2 separate regions of the Homo sapiens genome follow, and region 1 is linked to region 2. The links come from fine-mapping of genetic effects on gene expression. A gene starts in region 2. The other region holds a variant in brackets. All regions are shown on one strand. Distances are between the middles of the regions.

Region 1 (9,627 bases), 27 kb after region 2:
CTAATGTATGAATTAATTTTTAACTGAAACGTAAAAATATGACTACCAGGTAATCTCAGTAGTTTTGTGCATACAGTAAATCATTTAGGAGAAATCTGTAGTGGATCCTGTCAGACTAAATTCTATGCTTATAAAATTATTGAGGCCAAACTGTCAAATATAATTTTTTTTTCTGTTTTGCACATGCTTAGTTAAGGCTAGATATGTAATAGAAGGTTAAAGAAATACTTTAACTAGTCAATGCTTCAGTATTTCTGTCGGTATGTTATAGCCCAAAAAAAGTATTTATTTAGCTTTGGATTTCATTTGAGAATTTCCTGAAGTGTAATCACTGAAACTCAGATAACCAGATGCTTTATGGGGGAAAAAAGGTACAAGACCAAATAAATTCGAGAAATGATGTATGACATAAGCCTTCTGTAAGTAGTGCCTTAATGATTCCTTCAACAAATTTTTTTTTTTTTTTTTTTTTTTTTTTTTTTTTTGAGACAGAGTCTCACTCTGTTGCCCAGGCTGGAGTGCAGTGGCACAATCTCGGCTCACTGTGATACCTCCACCTCCCGGGTTCAAGTGATTCTCCTGCTTCTGCCTCCCAAGTAGCTGGGATTACAGATGAGCACCACCTCACCCAGCTGATTTTTGTATTTTTAGTAGAGACGGGTTTTACCACATTGGCCAGGCTGGTCTTGAACTCCTGACCTCAGGTGATCCGCCCACCTCGGCCTTCCAAAGTGCTGGGATTATAGGTGTGAGCCACCGCACCCAGCTTCTTCAACAAATATTAAGTGAACACCTATTCCCTGCCAGAAACCATTCTGAGTACTGAAATATAACTTAATAAATCATGCCCAAATCCCTGCCCTCAAGGAGTGTATGTTGTAAATATTTCAAAAGGCATACAATGAAAGGAACCTTTTCAATTTTGTGTAAGTTAGTGTCTTTCAGTCTTATTTGACTTTGGAACTCCTTTTTCTGTGAACACCCCCAAAAACACTATTCAAAGGAATACCATTATTGAAACACAGTTTGTTTCCATCTTTCTAAATTAAAGGTTAATTCTTGCCTTTTAAGTACTTTTTGCCTCTTAAGGATGTTTTTCTCCAGTTTGTCACATAAATTTTGAAATACTTTTCTTGTGTATATGTAGGAGAAAAATATATATATTCCTATTTCTTTAAATATTTGAGTATTTATATATGTAATAAATGCATACATATAAATATGTATATATACACATGCAATATATGATACATATTTAGGTACAGTACAAATATGAGGTTTTGCATTTTGCTGTATGCATTATGTATCCTTTAGTGCCACCTCATCTAACATTTTCTCCGTGGAGTCTTTCTTGACTACTTGTGGTAGAATTAATCTCTCATTTATCTTTATGCCCCAGTAACACAATGTGTGCACTTCTATTTACAGTACTTCCTGTATTTATAATTATTTATTCCCCATTTTCCAGCCTAGAATAAATTCTTCAATGTCACAGAAGGACCAAGGTCACATCTTTGTATTGCTGGGATCTTTTTTTTTATTTATTTATTTTTATTTATTTATTTTTTTTGAGACTGAGTCTCCCTCTGTCGCCCAGGCTGGAGTGCAGTGGTGCGATCTCAGCTCACTGCAAGCTCCGCCTCCCGGGTTCACGCCATTCTCCTGCCTCAGCCTCCCAAGTAGCTGGGACTACAGGCGCCTGCCACCACATCCGGCTATTTTTTTTTTTTTTTTGTATTTTTCAGTAGAGACAGGGTTTCACCGTGTTAGCCAGGATGGTCTCGATCTCCTGACCTTGTGATCCGCCCGCCTTGGCCTCCCAAAGTGCTGGAATTACAGGCATGAGCCACCGCGCCCGGCCTGTATTGCTGTGATCTTAAAGCCTGGCCTATAGTAGGTGCTTGATAAGTATTTGTTGAATTGAGTTCAATAAATACCATGAAAATTAATTTCAGGTTTATGACTTTGATGTTCTTAATTTAGACTGTAGCTTTATAAGCTTTATAATCATACTAAAGATGTTTTACATTTTTCCGTAGGTTACAGTGTACAGCATGTATGTTTCTATAATGGCTTTCAATGCAAAGGTTAGTGATCCACTTATTGGAGGAACATACATGACCCTTTTAAATACCGTGTCCAATCTGGGAGGAAACTGGCCTTCTACAGTAGCTCTTTGGCTTGTAGATCCCCTCACAGTAAAAGAGTGTGTAGGAGCATCAAACCAGAATTGTCGAACACCTGATGCTGTTGAGGTAAGTATGTTTTAATTTTAGATAACATTAAGCTAATACTAAGATATTAATATCTTTGTTTTGTCTCTAGAAGTACTATATCTTTTTTAAAAATCATATCTGTCCATAGGTTCTGGTTTAGAAATCTACATATATATTTTCTTTCACATCAAGGCTGAGGGTTATAATCATTCAAATCAGCAAGACTAGTTCCCTTAAAGGCGTTTCTCAGTAAAGGAGAGGCGATCTCTCTTTCCCCCACCTTGACGATCACTGTCCTACACAGCAGGCACTATATAAATGCATAATTAATAGCTTAAGTTTTGTAGTGATAGAAAAAGGGAATGTCCATTGGCTATTCCTATAACAGTGATAACTAAACCTGTATAGTGAGTGGTTTGTTGATAAATTCTTTCAAAGTGGTATTTGTCTACTTCTAGAGTAGATGGACTGGAAATTTCTTCACATTTCCGAATGTGAAAGCTGCATCGTGAAAATAGATAATCGGGCCAGGTGCAGTGGCTCACGCCTGTATTCTTAGCACTTTGGGAGGCTAAGGCGGGTGGATTGCCTGAGCTCAGGAGTTTGACACCAGCCTGGGCAACACGGTGAAACCCCATCTCTACTAAAATACAAAAAATTAGCCGGGCGGGGTGGTGTGTGCCTGTAGTCCCAACTACTCAGGAGGCTGAGACAGGAGAATTGCTAGAACTGGGAGGCGGAGGTTGCAGTGAGCTGAGATCGCGCCCCTGTACTCCAGCCTGGGCGACAGAACAAGACTCCGTCTCTTAAAAAAAAAAAAAAAAAAAAAACATATTCGGCTGGGTATGGTGGCTCACACCCGTAATTCCAGCATTTTGAGAGGCTGAAGCAGGCAGATTGCTTGAGCCCAGGAGTTCAAGACCACCCTGGGCCACATGGTGAAGCACCATCTCTACAAAAAATGTAGAAATTAATGGGGCATGGTGGTGCACGCCTGTGGTCTTATCTACTCACAAGGCTGAGGTGGGAGGATTGCTTGAGCCCAGGAGCCAGAGACCGCAGTGAGCCATTATCACACCACTGCATTTCAGCCGGGGCCACAAGTGAGACCGTGTCTCAAAAAAGAAAATGAGTATTGTTTACAGCAAGAACTGAAAATTGTTTTTAATCCTGTTAGTAGCATTAGAGAGATTAAGATACATTAACATATTTTGTCATTGGAATTCAGTGAAATACTGAAATGTTTTAAGAAAAATATATTTTTATTCTTTATAAAGTAGAAGCATGTTAATTGCTAAATACTTTCATTTTGAAATTGTGGAGTATTTATTATAGTTTTATTTTTACAGCTTTGCAAAAAACTGGGTGGCTCATGTGTTACAGCCCTGGATGGTTATTATGTGGAGTCCATTATTTGTGTTTTCATTGGATTTGGTTGGTGGTTCTTTCTTGGTCCAAAATTTAAAAAGTTACAGGATGAAGGATCATCTTCGTGGAAATGCAAAAGGAACAATTAATATATATGCTACTGGACATTCTAGCAAGGTAATTGTAGTTTAGTTTTAATTCGGAGAGCAATGATAATCAGTGCACAGGAGTATAAAATATTATTTTAAACAGCGAAATTAATAATATAAAATGCCAAATGGTTGAAAAAATAGAAACCTTTCTGTATATTTGATCATATTTTTTTTTTGCCTTGTCAATGTATTTAAAGTTTACTTAAGGTCAGGAAATTCTAAAACAACTTTTCTGGCCTTGTTATTTGATGTATATCTTTTAAATTTACTGACCAAAGCATGTTTTAAGCTGCAATGCAGTAGTCACGGGTGGTAACCATGTAGTCAGGTATTGTTATTAGTACCTATCACTGCTGAGCTGTATTTAAAATTTTGGTACAATATATAAAATGGAGAAGAGCTTGATATTCAGGTACTAACCACAACTAGTCTGACATTGTTGGCAGTTAAAATCTTATTTTGAATTGTAAATTAGTTAAATTTTATGTGGAATTTGCTGAGAAAAGAATATAGACTACTGAAATGTCATTTTAGTTATTTTTCTTATGACCACATTGTACAAATGAATCTGTGTTAAAAAGACTATTTTAAATGTATTTCCTGCTTTTGTAAGCATTAAAGATTTATAAGAAAATTATTCAAACTATTTTTTATAAAATGAAAGTTATGATTTTTAAACTTATTGATTCCTCTTGCCCCTACCCCCTCTTTTTGGAAGATATTTTGATTCCTTATAAACTTTTACCCTAAGCTTATATATGTTTTCTGTCACAAGTGCTTCCTGGCACACAGACAGCCAATGGAGGGGATCAAATTCAGTGTTGTATGTATGTTTATGGCAACATTTTGAAAATAAAAATTAAATGTTTTTCTTCAAGTAGTTTTTTTTTAATTGCTGAGAGAAAAAAACAGTAAAGCTTTCTGATTAAGTAAAATTTAAATGGGCAGTACCATAATTTAAAAAACTAATACTTTAAAGAGAGAGACAAAGATATTTTGTGCCTTTGACAAATTAAATCTAATAGTGGAAAAATGTTTCTTAATTAAGCACTTTACTAGTGAAAAAGATCTCACAATTTATGCCAAATCAGGTACTGTATTTTCATGTATTAACACATAACCTTTTGTTTGAATACTATAGTTTTCAGTGGACAGTTGCTATTCCAAGAAAATTAAGCTTTTGAGTACTTTAGCAATTCCCAGCGTATTACATACACCCAGTGATAAGGTTCTTTGCATGTTTTGTGTTATGTATTACTCTGACTCTTTAGAGATTATATAAATCCTCCAAAAGTTAGACGAAACAAGATAGTACATTATGAGTCTTAATTTTATCATTGTGGAAAAATGTGTACTAACTCCTGATTTTGTTAATTTTATAACATAGGTTGAATTTTAGAGTGGGGTTTTTATAAGTAATGGAGGATAAAATGGGTGGGAGAAAATGGCACACAGCACCTGAAGAAAGATGGGGCAGTGACCTCTAGAACTCATGCATTGCCATTGGAAAGCCTGTGTTGGGCATCGATGTCAGATCCTGAAGAATCACCTGGAAAAAATCCCATCCTAGAGGCAAGGAGGCTACACCAAACCATACACTACAGTACTTTGTCACATGGTTGTCCATTATCATGTATTAGAGTCTAAATGATTACTTGAATAAAGAAAA[AAAAC/C]CACTTAACTCTTACATATGAAATGTGTTTTGATTTTTAATTTTTGGATTAAGAAACTCAGATTGCCATAATAACCTTTTATTTCTTCCCGTGTATATTATTACAAATTATATATACTTTCAAACATAGTTTTTTTTTTTTTTAATTGAGACAGAGTCTCACTTTGTCACCCAGGCTGGAGTACAGTGGTGCAATCTCGGCTCACTGCAACCTCTGCCTCCTGGGTTCAAGTGATTCTCCTGCCCCAGTCCTCTGAGTAGCTGGGACTACAGGCGCACACCACCACACCCGGCTAATTTTTGTATTTTTAGTAGAGATGGGGTTTCACCATGTTGGCCAGGCTGGTCTTGAACTCCTGACCTCAAGTGATCCACCCGCCTCGGCCTCCCAAAGTGCTGGGATTACAGGCATGAGCCACTGCGCCCAGCCTTCAAACATAGTTTTAATGTCAGTACATCTTTAATGACTTGAAGTTTTAAAACATTTTAAGCCTTTAAGGTGAAAGCCATTTAATTAATTTGCTCTAGAAATAAGCACAAAAAATTATAGTTAATTTGAATACATGTATGTAATGCATGTCAAAATAACTTGTTAATAGCTATGTGCAACTGTGTTGCATACATTGATCACTAATGGCATTTAAAAATGATCTGCCTAAATCTGAGGATCTGTTTATTATAAATCAGTAGTACTAAAATATACCACCCTGTTTTTATGTTGTGGGTGTTTTTCTTGATTGATTGATCCTGATAAATTAAACAGTACCTTCAAGTATGGACTTTTAACTCCTCCAGTTAATGCATCATATGTTTACTGGCTAATATTAGATTGAACATTTTTCTCTCTATGTCAGTATCTCCATATGCACATTGGTTGCCGCATATATACATCTGAGTTTGAAAAGTTCTTCTGAGATTACCTAAAAGTAACACCACAGATTCCTTCCATTGTAAATACTTTATTTTATTTTATTATTATTTTTTAGAGACATGGTCTCACTTTTGCCCAAGCTGGAGTACAGTGATGCAATCATAGCTCACTGCAGCCTCAAATTCCTAGGCTCAAGGGATCTTCCTTAGGCTGGATGCTGTGGCTCACACCTGTAATCACAACACTTTAGGAGGCCAAGGCAGGAGGATCACTTGAGGTCAAGAGTTCAAGACCAACCTGGTCAATATAATAAGAACCTGTCTTTATGACTTCTTTTTTTTTTTTAATTATCCAGGCATGGTGGTACACACCAGTAGTCCCAGCTACTTGGGAAGCTTAGGCGGGAGGGTTACTTGAACCCAGGAGGTCAAGGCTTCAGTAAGCAGTGATTGTGGTACTACATTCCTGTCTGGGTGACAGAGTGAGACCCTGTCTCAACAACAAAAAAGGATCTTTCCACCTCAGCCTCTCTGGTAGCTAGGACTACAGGCACACAGCACTATGCCCAGCTAATAAAAAATAATAATTTTTTATAGAGGTGGGGTCCGCTATATTTTCCAGGCTAGTCCCAATCTCATAGCTTCAAGCAGTCGTCCAGCCTTGACCTCTCAAAATGCTGGGATTACAGGTGTAAGCCACCGTGCCCTGCCCATGATAAATATTTTAATTTTGCCTGATAAGTCATAAAAAGTTTATTCAACACCTTAAATAGATTTCTCAATTTTTTAAAAATATTAAACCTTTGAAATCGAAAGTAATTTTTGGATTTCACCCCTTTATTGCAAGGTTTTTGATGTCTGTGGGAAAAACCCCTGAATTGCTTGTGAAACTCTGGATATGTAATTTTTTTTCTTTTTCTGAACAGAGTAAAATCTTGGATGGGCCATGATCCAAAAATCATGGTTTTGAAAGTAGACCGTACTATAAGCCATAATCACAAATCTGAGGTAATAGTTGTGAAAGTGTTTAAAACATCCTGAAAACAATGTTGAAAAAAAAAATCTATGATAAAAACTATAAAATCTCTGCATATGTTATACTGTATTGAACTTGAAACTTTGAAGGAATTAGAGTAGATAAGACATTAATGGTAGAAGAGAAACCACAGGGGTGAATTATATCCTACAAAAGAGAAATCTTCATGATTTAACCTTTTTTTTCTGAGTGACTTTTATTTTGCCTTATTAACAGAAACCTGAGAAAGTATGTTGCTTTGTATTAAATGGTTGAGACCATTATTTGATATAAAAGCTGAAAATTTAATTTTTGTATTTTGGAGAATTCTGTGGTTCCAAGTAATTGAAAGAATGACTAAAGCTGTATGTCATAGACCCTGCTAAAATGAAATAACTTGTTGGGAACATTCCATGCAGATTTCCAAAATGTATTTTACCTTATTATTAGAGAAAGAAAATAAACTTTTAAAATAATCTGATAACTAGCATTCATATATTTAATAAGTATTTTGGTTACAGAAGGGAAGGTGATACTGTACATTGTAACTGCTGAGACTTTTTTTTAACCAATGTCTTTGGTAGATAGCGAGGCACAATTATTTTCTCTTAGGGAGGATTTTGAATACCTATTGCAGGCTGGGCATGGTGGCTCACGCCTGTAATCCCAACCCTTTGGGAGGCCGAGGTGGGTGGATCACTTGAGGTCAGGAGTTTGAGACCAGCCTGGCCAACATGGTGAAACGCCGTCTCTACTAAAAATACAAAAATTAGCCAGGCATAGGGTGGCACACGACTGTAATCCCAGCTACTAGGGAGGCTGAGGCAGGAGAATTGCTTGAGCCCGGGAGGCGGAGCTTGCAGTGAGTTGAGATTGCGCCACTACACTTCAGCCTGGGCGACAGAGCGAGACTCCGTTTCAAAAACAAACAAACAAAAACAAAACAAAAACACCTACTGCAGACCATGTTCTTTTTACTTTATTTTATTTTATTATTTTTTTGAGATGGAGTCTGGCTCTGTTGCCCAAGCTGCTCACTGCAACCTCCGCCTCCCGGGTTCAAGCGATTCTCCTGCCTCAGCCTTCCAAGTAGCTGGGACTACAGATGTGCACTACTACGCCCAGCTTATTTTTGTATTTTTGGTCGAGATGGGGTTTTGCCATGTTGGCCAGGCTGATCTCAAACTCCTGACCTTAGGTGATCTTCCCGCCTTGGCCTCCTAAAGTGCTGGGATTACAGGCGTGAGCCACCGCTGCTGGCTCTTTTTACTTTAGATTGTATCTGCCTGATTTGACAATGCCAAATTTTTTATGTAATCACCATTTGGTTTGGGACTGAGAGCTCTTTCATTTTCTACCAGTCAAACCACTATTAGAGTCTTCATGTTACTTCCCCAATTTGCTAGCAAGGTAGAATCAGCATGGATAGCTTATTTTCCTTATTGGAATTCTGTTTTGGAAGAGGCAGGTCTTATAGCAGGGCAGACTAATTAATGTGCTGAACTCATTCCCTCCTGCTTAAGTGAATAAAAACTTTTATTTGACTATGGATTATAAAGATTGCCTTTAAGGAGCCTTGTTTATTTTGGGGAAGGAGAATGGATATTTTGTAGGAGAAAAAGACTTTATATAGTAAATGAAAAGTCTATGGGCTGGGTGTAGTGGCTCATACCTTTAATCCCAACACTTTGGGATGCCAAGGTAGGAGTATTGCTTGAGCTCAGGAGATCGAGACCAGGGAGACTGCATCTCTATTTTTAATTAAAAAGGAAAGAAAAAGAAAGAAAGTTCTATGACTAATCACCTTTACTCTAAAAAAATTTTGCCCAAATGTGTAATGAAAGAGATCATATTTAAATATCAGCAATATTAATTTGCATAGCTCATAAGAAGTCTTGACTCATTTAGAAAAAGGTTGCTACAGTTTAATAGTTTTTTATTGTCAATATAGACAATATAACTTTATAACAATTTTATGTGAAGAATAATGATTAAATGGCATGACTGAAATGCACAAGGTACAGGTACAATCCTTAGGGAGTTATCTTAAATTTCTTTTTTTTTTTTTTTTTGAGATGGAGTCTTGCTCTGTCGCCCAGGCTGGAGTGCAGTGGCATGACTCCCTGCACCCTCTGCCTGCTGGGTTCAAGTGATTCTCCTTCCTCAGCCTCTCCATTAGCTGGGATTACAGGTGCCTTCCACCACACCTGGCTAATTTTTTTGTATAGTATAGACGGGGTTTCACCATGTTGGTCAGGCTGGTCTCAAACTCCTGACCTCGTGATCTGCCTGCCTCGGCCTCCCAAAGTGCTGGGATTGCAGGTGTGAGCCACT
Region 2 (9,627 bases):
TCCTGCCTCAGCCTCCCAAGTAGCTGGGACTACAGGCGCCCGCCACTACGCCCGGCTAATTTTTTGTATTTTTAGTAGAGACGGGGTTTCACCGTTTTAGCCGGGATGGTCTCGATCTCCTGACCTCGTGATCCGCCCGCCTCGGCCTCCCAAAGTGCTGGGATTACAGGCGTGAGCCACCGCCCGGCCATAGTTTTTTTATAGTTGTTTGTTTGTTTTTTGAGATAAAACTCTTATGTATTTTGAAATGCAGAAATTTTAACTGTGCAATTTCAATTTGTTTTTGAAGGACCTAGTTTGGAAGTTTCTAAGAACATAGAGTAAAAAGAAAAAGGAAAGTTATGAGAAAAAGCTTAAGGGGTAATTCCAGTAAACAAAATATAAGTTTACTAGGACTTTTAGGGGGAATTAATGAAGAGGAAAAAATGAAAAAGCAAAGATATTATTAAGGAAAATTTCTCTAAAATCAAGAAAGATTTGAAACTTTGTTAAAAAAGACCTAATAAATGTTGAACAAGATTAATAGAAAAACATATATGTATTATACAATACATACCTTCATACATCCTGGTGAAAATTCTGAACTTCAAGGATAAAGCGAATTTTCACAAGCTTTCAACTGGAAAACACAGGATACCTATAAAGGGACAAGGAAAAAAAAAAAAAGCAAGAAAGGATCATGGCGACCACCAGAAGGGTTTTATATTTGGCAGTTTCACCAGCTTCCCCAAAACACATCAATCAGGGAACACCAGTATTCCAAAAGAAAGGGGAAATGATATTAACTGAAGTGAGTTAGGGGAGTTGAAAATGCAAAAAAAACAAAAACAAAAAACAAAAACAGCTATTCATGACAGTATGGGCTGAAGGTCCCATGCGGTATCAGTTTTGTTTTCATAGTGATAGTGACATTTGTTCCACATTTGCTGAGGGACACTGAGGGCCTGGTGGGGGTGGTGTTCCCAGGTTTGTAGAGAAATGTCTTAGTTTGTGTTGGAAAGATACTACCACTAAGTCTTCTAAGAAGACAACAGCAATTTGGGCATGGCTTAGCAACGAATACTTGTCTCTACTCTTTATTTAGCATTAGCAGGGGTGGCTCACCTTGGGGCTGGAGGATTCTCTTCTCACTGTGTTGCCCAGACTGGAGTGCAGTGGCACAGTCTTGGCTCACTGCAACCACCACCTCCCAGGTTCAAGCGATTCTCCTACCTCAGCCTCCCAAGTAGGTGGGATTACAGGCATTCACCACCACACCCAGATAATTTTTGTATTTTTAGTAGAGACAGGGTTTTACCATCTTGGCCACACTGGTCTTGAACTCCTGACCTCAAGTGATCCACCTGCCTTGGCCTCCCAAAGTGTTGAGATTACAGGCATAAGCCATTGCCCCTGGCCCACCTTATCACTTTAATAATGCATACACATTGAATTGGGGTAACATGAAAAACACTTTTCCTGATATTTGCCTCCAGTCATTTTTCCTATTGTTTGTAACTCTTGCCTGCATAGATCTAAAGATTTAACATTTGATAGGAAGATAATTGAACCACTAAAGGGGAATCATTCTTATATGTAGGGAGAAATCAATTATTTCCAAGAAGATTCCTTATTTAAAAACTGATGTGGCGGGACACGGTAGCACACACCTGTAGTCCCAGCTACTCAGGAGGCTGAGGCAGGAGAATCACTTGAACCCGGGAGGTGGAGGTTGCAGTGAGCCGAGATCACACTGTTGCACTCCAGCCTGGGCGACAGAGCGAAACTCCATCTCAAAAAAGAAAAAAAAAAAATGAAAAAAACTCAAAACTGATTTGGTATCTATACAATGGACTAATACTCTGTGATTTAAAAGAAAGACGGACATACATTGATACTGATATATTACCATCTTAAATGGATCTCAAGGACATTTTGGTGGATGAAAAAAAAAGTTGATCCCCAAAGTTGCATACTATATGATTCCACTTTTATAATATTCTTGAAAGGACGTAAGTATAGCCGTGGAGAACAAATTAGTGATTGCCAAAGAACAGGGAGGAGGACAGTGGACTGGTGCAACTATTAATATGTAGTACTATAAGGGATAGCACTATGAAAGGGTAACACAGGACACACACACACACACACAAGCTAGTGCATGTAAAAACTGGTGAAATTGGAATAAAGCCTGTGGTCTGGTTAACAATATTTTACAGATGTCAGTTTCCTGGTTTTAATATTGTACTATAATCACGTAAGAGGCAATGATCAGAGGAAGGTGGGTGAAGGGTATATGGGACTCTGCTATATTTGCAATTTCCTGTGAATCTATAATTATTTCAAATTAAAGAAGGGGAAAAAATCAAACACAAGACATACAAACTCATCAAGTATTTCCTTTTTTTTTGGAAAAAAAAAAAACACCTACTGATTGTGAATGGCTTTATTGGCTGCTTCCTTTAACTCCCACAACTCTCTGAAATAGATGTTATGAACTCTATTTTAATTTTCATCAAAATGGAGGCTTAGGTTAAGTAATCTGTCCAAGGCACAACTACTGTTAGAGCCAGGGTTTGAATCCAGCACAATATAAATCCCACTCATGGTTGTTTTGGTTTAATCTTGATTGGACTTAAATGACACCGTTCTTTTCTTTAACACCCAGACTGGAGTGCAATGGCATGATCTCGGCTCACTGCAACCTCCGCCTCCCGGGTTCAAACGATTCTCCAGCCCCAGCCTCCCGAGTATCTGGGACTACAGGCATGAGCCACCACACCCAGCTGATTTTTGTATTTTTAGTAGAGACAGGGTTTCACCATATTGGCCAGGCTTGTCTTGAACCCCTGACCTCAAGTGATCTGCCCGCCTCAGCCTCTCAAAGTGTTGGGATTACAGGTGTGAGCCACCGCGCCCGGCCAACACTGTTCTTTTCTGCAATCTATTCTTCTACTTAACAAAGATTAGAGGACTTTACAGTTGCCTTTTTTTTTTTTTTCCAGACGGAGTCTCACTCTGTCGCCAGGTTGGATTGCAGTGGCACGATCCCGGTTCACTGCAACCTCCGCCTCCCAGGTTCAAGCGAGTCTCCTGTCTCAGCCTCCCAAGTAGCTGGGGCTACAGGCGCGCGCCACCAGGCCGAGCTAATTTTTTGTATTTTTAGTAGAGACGGGGTTTCACCGTGTTGGCCAGGATGGTCTCAATCTCTTGACCTCGTGATCCACCCGCCTCGGCCTCCCAAAGTTCTGGGATTATAGGCGTGAGCCACTGTGCCTAGCCTGCCATTACGTTTGTAATCCCAGCACTTTGGGAGGCCGAGGCAGGCGGATCACGAGGTCAGGAGTTCGAGACCAGCCTGGCCAACATAGTGAAACCCCGTCTCTACTAAAAATACAAAAATTAGCCGGGCGTGGTGGCGCGTGCCTGTAGTCCCAGCTACTCGGGAGGCTGAGGCAGGAGAATCGCTTGAACCCGGGAGGTGGAGGCTGCAGCGAGCCGAGATGGCCCTACTGAACACCAGCCCAGGCGACAGTGTGAGATTCCTCTCAAAAGAAAAAAAAATAATAATCTTTCTGCCAGAGGTGAGAGAGCAGAAAAAAAATTAATCAGATTCTCAAATTCCTGTACGTCTCTTAGTAGAGACGGGTTTCTCCTTGTTGGTCAGGCTGATCTTGAACTCCCAATCTCAGGTGATCCGCCCGCCTCGGCCTTCCAAAGTGCTGGGATTACAGGCGTGAGCCACCGCGCCCGGCCACAAGACGTTTTATTGCAACATAAAAACAGGATGTAACGAGTCTTCCAATCACCAATGTAATTAGAGTTGGTTACCAAGTTTCCCCACGCGTCTTCCACCATGAGGGAGAAACGGACTGCAGACAAACCTAGCACCCCTTGAGCAGTTTAATTCGTACTATAAATATGTAGGCACCGTAAGGACGCGATTCTCCAGTTTGCCAGGCCTTTTTCTATCCTTTTGGGGGCACAAGGCGACCTTGCCTCCTGATTCAAAAACTTCGTAAACGTCAATCCTTCTACCCTTTTCTGGTCAGCCCACGAAAGCAGCAGCATGGCACAACTCCCAGCCTAGAGTTCGGGCACTGCCTGTCGTCAGCATAACGAAGAAACCTACACCCACGAAGACTTCAGACCCCACGTGATTACATCACTCAACCACCAGCGCTGGCCTGGAGGAACCCGCTGTCACGTGACCGCTCGTGCCCAATGACCGAGGCCCACGCTTTCCAGACCGCCACAGTCGCTGTCACAGGGCCTGAGTTTGGGCGGCGCCCCGCCCCGGCCGCACGGTGCGCCGGCGTTAATCCTCCCCGAAGGTTCCGGCAGCCAAGATTGCAGGTTCCCACCAAGCATTGTTTCCGAACTGGGCCACGAGAGCGTGTCCCTGATTGGCTTGCTCTGGAGGCTGGGAAGGGACCTGTTAGAGACTGGGACCACTTCCTGAAGCGCGAGGCAGGAAGTTATATGCTTTTTCTGGAGTCCTGTAGAGAAAGTGCTCTCTGCCGCATTGATAGCAGCGAGAGCTGGAGGTGTTGGGTCGGGAGACCAGCCGTTCGATCCCGCCGCAGGTAGGAGCTGGTTTCCATCCTGGCACCACGGCACACACCTCCAGCCTCGAGCCCGGCGCTGCTGCCCGGGGGTCTCCTTCAGGCTCTTTGACGCCGTTCCAGGGGGCACCTATCCAGGCATCCTCTGGGCCTCTAGCCAGAGGACTGGCTCCCGGCTTCAGCACTCCGGGCTGCAGTAAGAAGTGCCCTTATCGCTCTGAGCCCTGCCACCATCCCGTGAACCACCGAAACCCTGGTCCAGCGCGACAGCCTTGGACCTGGGACTGGACGGATCCAAAACGCTCAGCCTCGGCCCCCCACAGACGGGGCTCTGCATCGTCTCTGATATGTCACCCACCATCTCCCACAAGGACAGCAGCCGGCAACGGCGGCCAGGGAATTTCAGTCACTCTCTGGATATGAAGAGCGGTCCCCTGCCGCCAGGCGGTTGGGATGACAGTCATTTGGACTCAGCGGGCCGGGAAGGGGACAGAGAAGCTCTTCTGGGGGATACCGGCACTGGCGACTTCTTAAAAGCCCCACAGAGCTTCCGGGCCGAACTAAGCAGCATTTTGCTACTACTCTTTCTTTACGTGCTTCAGGGTATTCCCCTGGGCTTGGCGGGAAGCATCCCACTCATTTTGCAAAGCAAAAATGTTAGCTATACAGACCAAGCTTTCTTCAGTTTTGTCTTTTGGCCCTTCAGTCTCAAATTACTCTGGGCCCCGTTGGTTGATGCGGTCTACGTTAAGAACTTCGGTCGTCGCAAATCTTGGCTTGTCCCGACACAGTATATACTAGGACTCTTCATGATCTATTTATCCACTCAGGTGGACCGTTTGCTTGGGAATACCGATGACAGAACACCCGACGTGATTGCTCTCACTGTGGCGTTCTTTTTGTTTGAATTCTTGGCCGCCACTCAGGACATTGCCGTCGATGGTTGGGCGTTAACTATGTTATCCAGGGAAAATGTGGGTTATGCTTCTACTTGCAATTCGGTGGGCCAAACAGCGGGTTACTTTTTGGGCAATGTTTTGTTTTTGGCCCTTGAATCTGCCGACTTTTGTAACAAATATTTGCGGTTTCAGCCTCAACCCAGAGGAATCGTTACTCTTTCAGGTAGTGTATTTAAGCTATTATGGTGTTAGGTTTATTTATCCTTTTGAAAGAGTGTGTGACGTTGGAGGGAAGCTCATTAATTTACTGGAAATCATTGTATGGGAGATAACTCAAGGTAAGTTTTCTGTTTCGTCCAAATGAGCTTCTTTGAAATATTAAAGCCAAAATGAATGATATTAGAGCAATCAAATGATCACTATGCGGTTAACAGGGAGAGGCAACCCATCAAATAACACAACCGAGTCCAGGGATTCATGCCACTTGCTTAATACACAAATGCACACTTTTAAAAAGTGTGGCTCATATGGTTCACATTTTTCCTTTTGTCTTGTTGGTTTTAGGTTTCTAGCTCTATACTTTCTAATCCATTTCTACCCCTACCGTTGTACCCAGAATCCAGCCTTCTAGTGAATGGAACAGGGTTTATTCGTTCAAACATTATTGAACCAGCTAAGGGACGGGATTCTAAGGCCTCTAATGAATAAGGCAGAGTTCTGCACTCAAGAAATAAGGAAGATGAACATTTTAGGAGAGTTCAGAGTTGCCAGTTAGTAACTGCCTTTGGGAGTCAGGCTTCACATTGCAGATAACATTTGACTTTGTTCTTGAATAAGATTCCACGAGGCCAGGAAATGGCACACCAGAATGCACAACACAAAGTAAAAGTGCACTGAGGCAGGAAAGTACAAAAAAGTACAGGACATTGCCTAAATTGTGGAACTGGGTTTGGGAAATCGTGCTGAGAAAGGCTGTGACTAAATTAGTAAGATTTTCTTTAATTACTATGGGAAAAGAGTTTAAAGTTTGTCCTGTAAGTAATGGAGGGTAAGTTCTAAAAAATTTCCCTGTTTCTCTGCATGAGTAAAACACATGTAAGTTTTTCTCTTTTTTCTTTTTTCTTCTTTTTTTTAATTGAGATAGTTGGGGGTCGGGGGGGCTGTCTCACTATGTTGGCCAGGCTGGTCTTGAACTCCTGGCCTCAGGTGATTCTCCCCCTCCTTGGCCTCCCAAAGTACTGGGAATTATAAGTGTGAACCACCCCACCTGGCCTAAGCTTTTTTGTTTGTTTGTTTGTTTTTAACTTTTGTAACAACTAGAAAACAAGTAAAATGACCAATATCAGGAATAACAATGTCAGGAATATAGTGAAATTCTTCATTCTGTCAGTGATGATGAATTTAGGGGATTCTGTTTTGAAATTTAAGCAACTGAACTTCTCAGCTTCTGTGCTACCTTGGAAATTCACAGTAGAGTAAATGTCCAGGTATGTGGTGGTGGTAGGAGGTGTCACAACTACACTATTTTCCTGCAATCTTATTCTCACAGACATCTAACCTTATGTACACCTCCTCAAACTGCTAATGAGTGAGCCACTATTACTGGTGAAATGATGGTGATAGTACTTTTTCCTCAGTTGTTTGGTTGAGAGATAATTGCTTTGCACCCAGGTAGATTTGTCTCAGTGTTCTGGGGTTCCACTCCTGCTTTATGAATAATTCACTGCTGGCCGGGCACAGTGGCTCACACCTGTAATCCCAGCACTTTGGGAGGCTGAGGTGGGAGGATCACTTGAGGTCAGGAGTTTGAGACCAGCCTGGCCAGCATGGCGAAACCCCATTTTTGAGACTCTGTCTCAAAAATAAATAAATAAATAAAATAAAAAATAAGTCACGACTGGGCACAGTGGCTCACACCTGTTATCCCAGCACTTTGGGAGTCTGAGGTGGGAGGACTGCTTGAGCTGAGGAGGTAGAGCCAGCTTGGGCAATACAGCAAGACCTCATCTCTACTAAAAATTAAAAAAAAAAAAAAAATAGCTGGGTGTTTTGCGAAGGCCTGTAACCCTAGCTACTCAGGAGGCTGAGGCAGGAGGATTGCTTCAGCCCGGGAGATTGTGGCTTCAGTGAGCTATGATCCAATCATTGCACCCCAGCCTGGTCAACAGAGTGCAACCCTGTCTTAAAATTATATATATGTATTTTTTATATGGAGTCTCCCTCTGACACTAGACTGGAGTGCAGTGGCAGGACCTCAGCTCACTGCGATTTCCACTTCTCTAGTTCAAGCCATTCTCCTGCCTCAGCCTCCTGAGTAGTGGGATTACAGGCATGTGCCACCACACCCAGCTAATTTTTGTATTTTTAGTACAGACAAGGTTTCACTGTGTTGGCCAGGATGGTCTCGATCTCCTGATCTTGTGATCCGCCCACCTCGGCCTCCCAAAGTGTTGGGATTACAGGCGTAAGCCACTGCGCCCAGCCAAAATAAATTAATTAATTAAAAATAAAATTAAAATAAAGAAGTCAAGGCTGGTGCAGTGGCTCACGCCTGTAATCCCAGCACTTTGGGAGGCTGAGGTGGACAGATCACCTGAGATCAGGAGTTTGAGACCAACCTGGCCAACATGGCAAAACCCCTTCTCTATTAAAAATACAAAAATTAGGTGGAAGTGGTGGCATTCACTTGTAATCCCAGCTACTCAGGAGGCTGGGTGGGGAGAATCGCTTGAACCCAGGAAGCAGAGGTTGCAGTGAACCGAGATCGCACCATTGCATTCCAGTCTAGGCGGCAGAGCAAGGCTCCATCTCAAAAAAAAAAAAAGAATAAGTCAGTGTAAATTAAAATCCAGTGGCATAATTTTGATCCATTAGGGAACAGTTGTGGCTAAGGGAGTATAAATATAATAACTCTTGAACTCATAACATTATTCTCTGGAATGATGTTTTACCAATCACTCTTACATTAAGAGAAAGTTCCAATTTAGCTAATTAGCAATTTAGTTTCCATGGCCTCTTAAACCTTGATTTCACTGAGGCTTTCTCATCTTAAGTAACATCATCTCCTTAATCCTCTGTGGTGATATAAACAGCAGTCTCAGGACAAAATGAAAAGCAGACACATAAAAAGCAACAAACTGGCTGGGCGCGTTGGCTCACGCCTGTAATCCCAACACTTTGGGAGGCCAAGGCAGGAGGATCACAAGGTCAGGAGATCAAGACCATCCTGGCCAACATGGTGAAACCTTGTCTCTTCTAAAAATACAAAAATTAGCCCGGTGTGATGGCATGCACCTGTAGTCTCAGCTACTCAGGAGGCTGAGGCAGGGGAATCGCTTCAACCTGGGAGGCGGAGGTTGCAGTGAGCTGAGATCGCGCCACTGCACTCCAGCCTGGGCGACAGAGAAAGACTCCATCTCAAAAAAGAAAAAAGCAACAAACTGATAACAGACAGTATGCATTCACAGAGTATTTCTAGGCAGTGAATTGTTATTATTATTATTATTATTATTATTATTATTATTATTATTATTATTCTGAGATGGAGTCTCGCTCTGTCGCCCAGGGTAGAGTGCAGTGGTATGATCTCAGCTCACTGCAACTTCCCCCTCCAGGGCTCAAGCTATTCTGCTGCCTCAGCCTCCCTAGTAGCTGGGATTATAAGCGTGTGCCACCATGCCTGGCTAATTTTTGTATTTTTGGTAGAGATGGGGTTTCGCCATGTTGGCCAGGCTGGTCTTGAACTCCTGACCTCAAGTGATCTGCTCACCTCGGCTTCCCAAAGTGCTGGGATTACAAGTGTGAGCCACTGTGCCTGGCTGTCACTTGTTATTTTGAATTGCCCCTTTTTTTTTTTTTCCTGTGGAATTTGAACTTTGTTCTGCAGTAGATTCTATAACTAGCTTACTTTTTAATTCAACTGTTTATATCTGTAGTGGACTGCTGTTTCTGGTTCAAACATTTTAGTTGAAAGTTAGAATTCCTATAGTTTCATTCTCCTTTTTATGACTGAACATACCACATTTATAACATTGTTCTTTCTGGAACTTATTAATAGGATAAGAAAAACCAGTGGTTTTGAAAAAGTTATATAGCACAGGAAGAATTATATGATGGAAATATAATTGCTTAGGTGATTAAAGAGGAGCTAAACACTGAGGCAATGTTTAGAAAATCTGAGTATT

The links. PIP is the estimated chance that this variant, and not a neighbour inherited with it, causes the effect.
Region 1: its variant is the best candidate, but not a certain one, in a credible set for the expression of SLC33A1 in whole blood (INTERVAL, PIP 0.62).

Annotation. Positions count from the first base shown.
Region 1 is chr3:155,822,316-155,831,942 of GRCh38, reverse strand. SLC33A1 (solute carrier family 33 member 1) reads left to right here. Exons shown (of 6, transcript NM_004733.4): 5 at 2,040-2,255; 6 at 3,566-9,627. The coding sequence ends at 3,733. Among named protein-coding and RNA genes, the nearest start is that of C3orf33, 21 kb to the right of the region's middle. The variant AAAAC/C (reference allele first, on the strand shown) is at 5,406.
Region 2 is chr3:155,849,262-155,858,888 of GRCh38, reverse strand. It overlaps SLC33A1 (solute carrier family 33 member 1), which reads left to right and starts at 4,462. Exons shown (of 6, transcript NM_004733.4): 1 at 4,462-5,666. The coding sequence starts at 4,892. It overlaps LOC105374174 (a long non-coding RNA gene), which reads right to left and starts at 4,136. Exons shown (of 3, transcript XR_924607.4): 1 at 3,811-4,136; 2 at 557-637. RefSeq lists enhancers at 812-911, 3,875-4,434, 4,805-4,874.